2 separate regions of the Homo sapiens genome follow, and region 2 is linked to region 1. Evidence: fine-mapped expression QTL. Tissue or cell type: tibial nerve. Region 1 holds a variant in brackets; the other region holds the start of a gene. All regions are shown on one strand. Distances are between the middles of the regions.

Region 1 (2,748 bases):
TGGCTCCTCAGTGAGCCACCCCCAGCTGTGTCCCCGTGAGCTCCTCCGGGCAAGGTCACCTGAAGTCAGTGGCCTGCATGCAAGTCCATCTGCCAGGCAGCGCCTGGCCCGGGGACGGGGGTGCCCTCAAGCCACCAGGCCTCGTTGATCTGAAGGACAAGGGCGCAGTGCCCCGTCGCCCTCCACCACTCTCCCTGGCGGCACGCCTTCCCACGCACAACAGCCTACCTTCCCGAAGGGCACACGGAGGCACAGGGTGGCCGAGCCACCTGTTGGAGGGTGGACTTTGGTCCCAGCTGTCCGTGAGGCCTTGGAGTGGAGAGTGGCCTCCCAGGCTGAACGCATGCCTGGTGTCACGGTGTGTGTGTATGTGAGAAAATGCACCGAACAAAAGCCACCACTTCAACCCTCTGCAAGAGCACAGCTCAGCGGCATTGGGTGTGTTCACGCTGTTGCACAGCTGTCCCCATCAGCCCACACGAAACCCCAACCCCCGAGCCCGCCCCCTGCACCCCGTCCCGCCCTCCACCTCCATGAGCCTGGCCCCTGCACCCCGTCCCACCCTTCCCCTCCATGAGCTCTGTCCAGGGGCCTCGTGGGAGTGGGATGGACAGAGCTGTGTGTCTGGTCTCTTCACTGAGCCCACTGTCCTCACGGTTCCTCCCCAGGGAGCCTGCGTGAGAACCCCCCATCCCTGTCCCGAGGCCAAGCGCCATCCACACTGCCCCTGCGTCCGTCCGTGGATGCCTGGGTGCTCCCCGTGTTGGCTATTTCGAGCCGTGCTGCTGGGAACATGGGTGTGCACGTATGCGTGAGCCCTGCCCTCGGTTCCTCGGGGAATGTGGCCGTGTGGAACTGCTGTCACCTGGGAGGTGTATGTTGAGCTTTTCAAGGAACGGCAGCACTGTCGTCTGCAGTGGCTGCACCGTGGGACGTTCCCACCCACAGGGCCAAGGGCCCCAGTCTCCCCACGGCCCCCACACGCTGGAGTTGACTTAGGGACCTCCCTAGCCCTTCTATCAGGTGTGGGGGGCGCCTACTCAGGGGCTGAGTGGGCCTCACCCTGGCCTGTCCCCCGGACATGCCTCTCCAGGCGGCGGGCCCTGGCAAGGGGTGTCCACACTGACCTCGCCGCTCTCCTGCCCACAGTGGGTGTCCCTGCAGGACCTCCTGTCCCAGCTGGGCCGGCCCTTCCGGGAGTACGAGCTGTGGGCCCTGTGCCTGGCCTGCCTCCGCGCACTGCAGACACGCCCTGAGCACCCAGGTGACGCACGCACCATCCCATCCCCCCCGCCGTCCCCACCCCCCACTGCTGTTCCACCCCCCACCGCCGTCCCACACCCCCGCCGTCCCACCCCCCACACCGTCCCACGCCCCCCCACTGTCCCATCACCCCTGCCGTCCCATGCGTAACTGGCCCCCACCTGAACCAAGGGACCCAGGGGCAGCCAGGACAGTGTCTCCGGTGAACGGAACAGGCGGCTCCCGTCTGGAGCACCTTGTGGGTGCCTGCTGGGTTGCAGCACCGAGGGAGGTGTGGGGACAGATGCCTGCAAGGT[G/A]GGCCTTGAAACCGGTGACTGTGCCGTAAAGAGGAACGGGGACTTTGCCATGGCCCTCGCCCACACATTCTCAACACAGTGACATTGTCCCCAGGGAGGCAGCAATTGGCTTTGGAGTGGGGAGGGAATCTTCAGCATTGCACGGGTCTGCCCCGTCAAAGCCTAGCCCTGCCAGACATCAGGGCAGACGGACGGTGCATCTGAGACGTAAAAACGTCCTGGGGGTGATGAGGGCAGCATCTGAAAGGGCTGGGGGAGAGGCCATCGGAGACACACCCGGCTCCAGTGTCCGTCCACCGTGAGCCCGTGGCTGCCCCGTGGGCCCTGACTCGGGACGGGGCCTGTGACACGGGGGCTTCAAGTTACCGTGTTCTCCCTGCCGCTTGGCTCCCTTTCAGCCGCAGATATGCCGCTGCAGCCACTGTGTCGGCTGGGGCAGCGCTACCCTCGGGGAGGGCTGGGAGGAGGCAGCTCCGAGGACCCCGGGGGCTGGGGTCAGGCCATGTGCGTGCACTGGCAGGTGCGTGCCCGTGCAATGGGGAGGCTGGGGGGCTGCCCGGCCTGACTGAGGCTCCGCAGCTCCTTCCCCCCAGCCAGCCCCAAGTGCGGGGCAGCATGCATACCCGCCCTGACCCAAGCTCTGCCACAGCCTACCTGTGTCTGGACTCCGTGCTGGTTGCTGAGGACGGGGCTGTGCTCTTCCAGCCACCCCCTGCCAACGGTGAGTGTGTGGGTTCCCCTCAGGCCGAGTCCAGCACCGGCTCGCCAGGGGTGAGGAAAGCTCAGTCGGGTTTCTCTCTTAGGTTCCTATGACTCGTTCTTTCTGGCTCCCGAGCTGGCAGAGGAGAGGCTGGTAACTGAAAAGGTACCCGGGCCCTCCCCACCCTGCCCCAGCCCTGCCCCCAGCCCTCGGGGATGCCACGTCCCCCATCTGTCCAGCAGCCCCCCATCAGGACTCGAGGGAGTCAGGGCAGCCCTTCCTGGCCAGGCGGCCACAGGCGGTATCTGCCAGCAGGGCCGTGGCTCTGGCCGGGGCACCAAGACAGGGCTTGGTGTGGACGGCACTGGCCATGTGCACTAGAGCTGCGCCTCCTGGCTCACGAGAACTAAGGGCTAAACAACCAGGGATGTGTATAAGGCACCTGTGAAACATGAGCATTCTTAAAATTTAAATTACACAAATTTAAAT
Region 2 (2,748 bases), 29 kb before region 1:
TCCAGGAGCCTGTGAGTTCTGCATTTTACCAACCGCATGCACGTCTTTCCAGGAGTGCTTGCCCTATGGCTGCCCCCCAAATTATGGGGTTACCTTTGCCCCCTATTCAGTGTCTATATCCTCACCCCAAGCCCGTGAGGTGACCTGGGCACTCGGTGACAAAGTCCTGTGCTTGTGGGGTCCCTGGTGCCTTCCCTTTGGGGTCACGTCAGCCCGGCGTTCCCCCGGAGGCACAAGTCTGGGTGGCAGCTGAGAGGCGTCAGGGGCACATCCAGACCTGACAAAGGAGGCGGCCCCAGCCCTGCAGCAGAGGGCCCAGGAGCCCAGGGGCTCAGCTCCAATGTCCAGGTCTGAGCACCAGGGTGCAGCGGGATCAGGCTCCTGGAGCAGAGTCTGCCTGCCACTTCCGCCTCCTTCCAAGACAGGGACTGGGGCGCTGCAGGCCCTGTGGGGCCCACAGAGAGAGAGCTCAGGGACAGCTGGCTGAGGCCACCCTCTGTGAGACTCCTCCTCTCCAGCTCCAGCCCACTCCACCTTGGCTTGCTGCCCAAGCTTCCAAACACCCAAGGATGGGGGAGGCTGCACCTGACTGCTGACTCGGTGGACCAGGGTGGGCCCCAGGGTGGGCATTTTCAATAAGGTGGGGCTGCCTGGCTGGACGCAGGGAGTCTGCCCAGCACCTGCCCCACTCCCAGCCTCCGGCTTCAGTGCCCACCTGGCTCCCGGGGAGCTGAGCCCCTGAACTCCCTGCCAGGCCAGAGTGACAGCCCGGGTGACCGACCAGGGGACAGAGTGCTGGGAATTCACGTCCCTGAACACACTGCACCCTCCCACTCTGCGGTCAAAAGCCCTGCTGCTCCTTCAAGCCAGGAGCATGGATTAAGTACCTACTGTGTGCCTGGCCAGCCACACGGACGGGGAGCTGACAGCCGGGCCCTGAAGCCGCCCTCTCTCCTGTGGGAGTTCTGGGGGTGGCCGGGGAAGGTGAGATTCTCCTCCACCCTCCCTGCCTCTTGGCCGAGCTTGGGGCTATCCTGGCTCTTCTGACCGCGGCACTACCGTGGGCCGGGGTCACCCTGGCGCTGAAGAAAGCCCCGGGGGGCCTTTGGGGCAGGAAGAGGTCAAGAGCCCCAGGACCCCCCAGGGTCCCCCAGGACCGGGGAGGGTCGGGTGCCCAGTGGGTCTCTCCGATGCCTCCAGGTGGGGATGAGGCAGCGTTATTGCCCCACCCCCAACATCCCCGGGCCTCCGAAAGACCCTCGCTCAGGAGAGACCCCGGCCCAGCGACCGCCCCGCCCCCCACCCCGGGCCCCGCCCCCCACCCCGGGCCCCGCCCGGCCCTGCCCAACGCCGCTGCAGAGGCCACCCCGGGACTGCGGCAGCCCCGCCCGGCAGCAGCGGGGGTGGGACGGGGGCGGCGGGAGCCGGCGAGGGGGTCTGCCCGTCCGAGCTTTCCTGGGCGCCGGCTCCGCCCCTCGACCCTTGGGGCCCAGGTGGGGCGCAGACCCCGTGGCTCCCCGCGGAGGCCACACGCCTGGCTCCGCCCCCGGTGCCTCCCCCAGGAAGGAGCGACGTTCCCTAGGCGCCGGGTCCGGACAGCGCCGCGCAGCCCCCGCGCACCCCGCGCCCCCCGCGCCCCCCGGGCCCGCCCCGTATCCCTGACCGCGTCCCCTGGAGACACTGCGGCAGCGGCGGGCGGGCGGGGGCGGGCGAGGGCCGGGCGCGTCTCCATGGAGCCAGGGCGCGCGTAGCCGAGCCCAGCCCAGCCCAGCCGGAGGCCCCGGGGGCGGTGCGCGGCGCGGCCGCAGGATGCAGGCCATGGACCCGGCCGCGGCGGATCTTTACGAGGAGGACGGCAAAGACCTGGACTTCTACGACTTCGAGCCGCTGCCCACCCTCCCCGAGGACGAGGTGAGCCCCCGGCCCCACTGGGGGGCCCCTTCCGCCGCCGAGGGGTCCGCGGAGAGCGCCCGGGGGGAGGACCCGGGAGGGGCTGTGAGCTCCCGCCTCCCCAGGCGCCCTCCATGGCCGAGGGGTTCCCACCGCCGTTCTCAGCCCCCGCGTTAGGATTTTCACCCGGAGGGGACAGCACCCCCGAATGCGCACGGGACGGCGGCGGGTGGGCAGCCCCTGCAGAAGTTGGTGCGCGGTAGCTCCTGGTGGAAACCCTGGCGGGACAGTGTGGGGGCAGCAAGGAGGACGGAGGGGGGTCTGCTTACTCCCTGCCGGGCCCCAGGAGGCCAGCGGGGTGCAGAGCAGCAGAGTCCAATCAGGCGCCGCTCAGGAGCTGGGGGATGAGGTCCCCGGAGCTGAGGTTCAGGAGCGGGGGGTGGGGGGAGCGCTGGATGACTGCCCCCCGAGACTGAGAGCTGCTTCCTGCTCTCTGGTTTTCCGGGCCTTCACCCAAGACCCCCCTACCCCGCAAGGTGCAGAGGGGCTCTGCCTGCCATCTGCATACCCTGGCGCTTCTGCTCATGGACCGCCCACCCTACAGCACCGGCTGCCCAGACGCCACCTTGGCTGGGTCTGACCCTGTAGCTCAGCTCTGGCTTGGCTGGGATGGAGTGGACAAGCCAGGCCCGGAAGCATGAGAGGTGGCCCCCAGGGGATACAGCAGCTCCCAGAGGGACCCTCACCCTCCAGGGATCCGAGATCTGCCAAACCTCCAACAGGCAAGAGCCCAGACGCTGGGCGCCTGCGTCTCCGGGTGACAGCGTCGTCACCTGCAGCCATTAGTGGGATGTTGTG

Evidence for each region. PIP is the estimated chance that this variant, and not a neighbour inherited with it, causes the effect.
Region 2: KNDC1 starts here. The variant in region 1 is fine-mapped to the expression of KNDC1 in tibial nerve (GTEx, PIP 0.93).

What each region holds. Positions count from the first base shown.
Region 1 is chr10:133,187,390-133,190,137 of GRCh38, forward strand. It overlaps KNDC1 (kinase non-catalytic C-lobe domain containing 1), which reads left to right. Exons shown (of 30, transcript NM_152643.8): 7 at 1,150-1,264; 8 at 2,209-2,280; 9 at 2,363-2,424. Among named protein-coding and RNA genes, the nearest start is that of KNDC1, 29 kb to the left of the region's middle. The variant G/A (reference allele first, on the strand shown) is at 1,560.
Region 2 is chr10:133,158,659-133,161,406 of GRCh38, forward strand. It overlaps KNDC1 (kinase non-catalytic C-lobe domain containing 1), which reads left to right and starts at 1,561. Exons shown (of 30, transcript NM_152643.8): 1 at 1,561-1,911. The coding sequence starts at 1,810. RefSeq lists enhancers at 1,932-2,521, 2,522-2,748.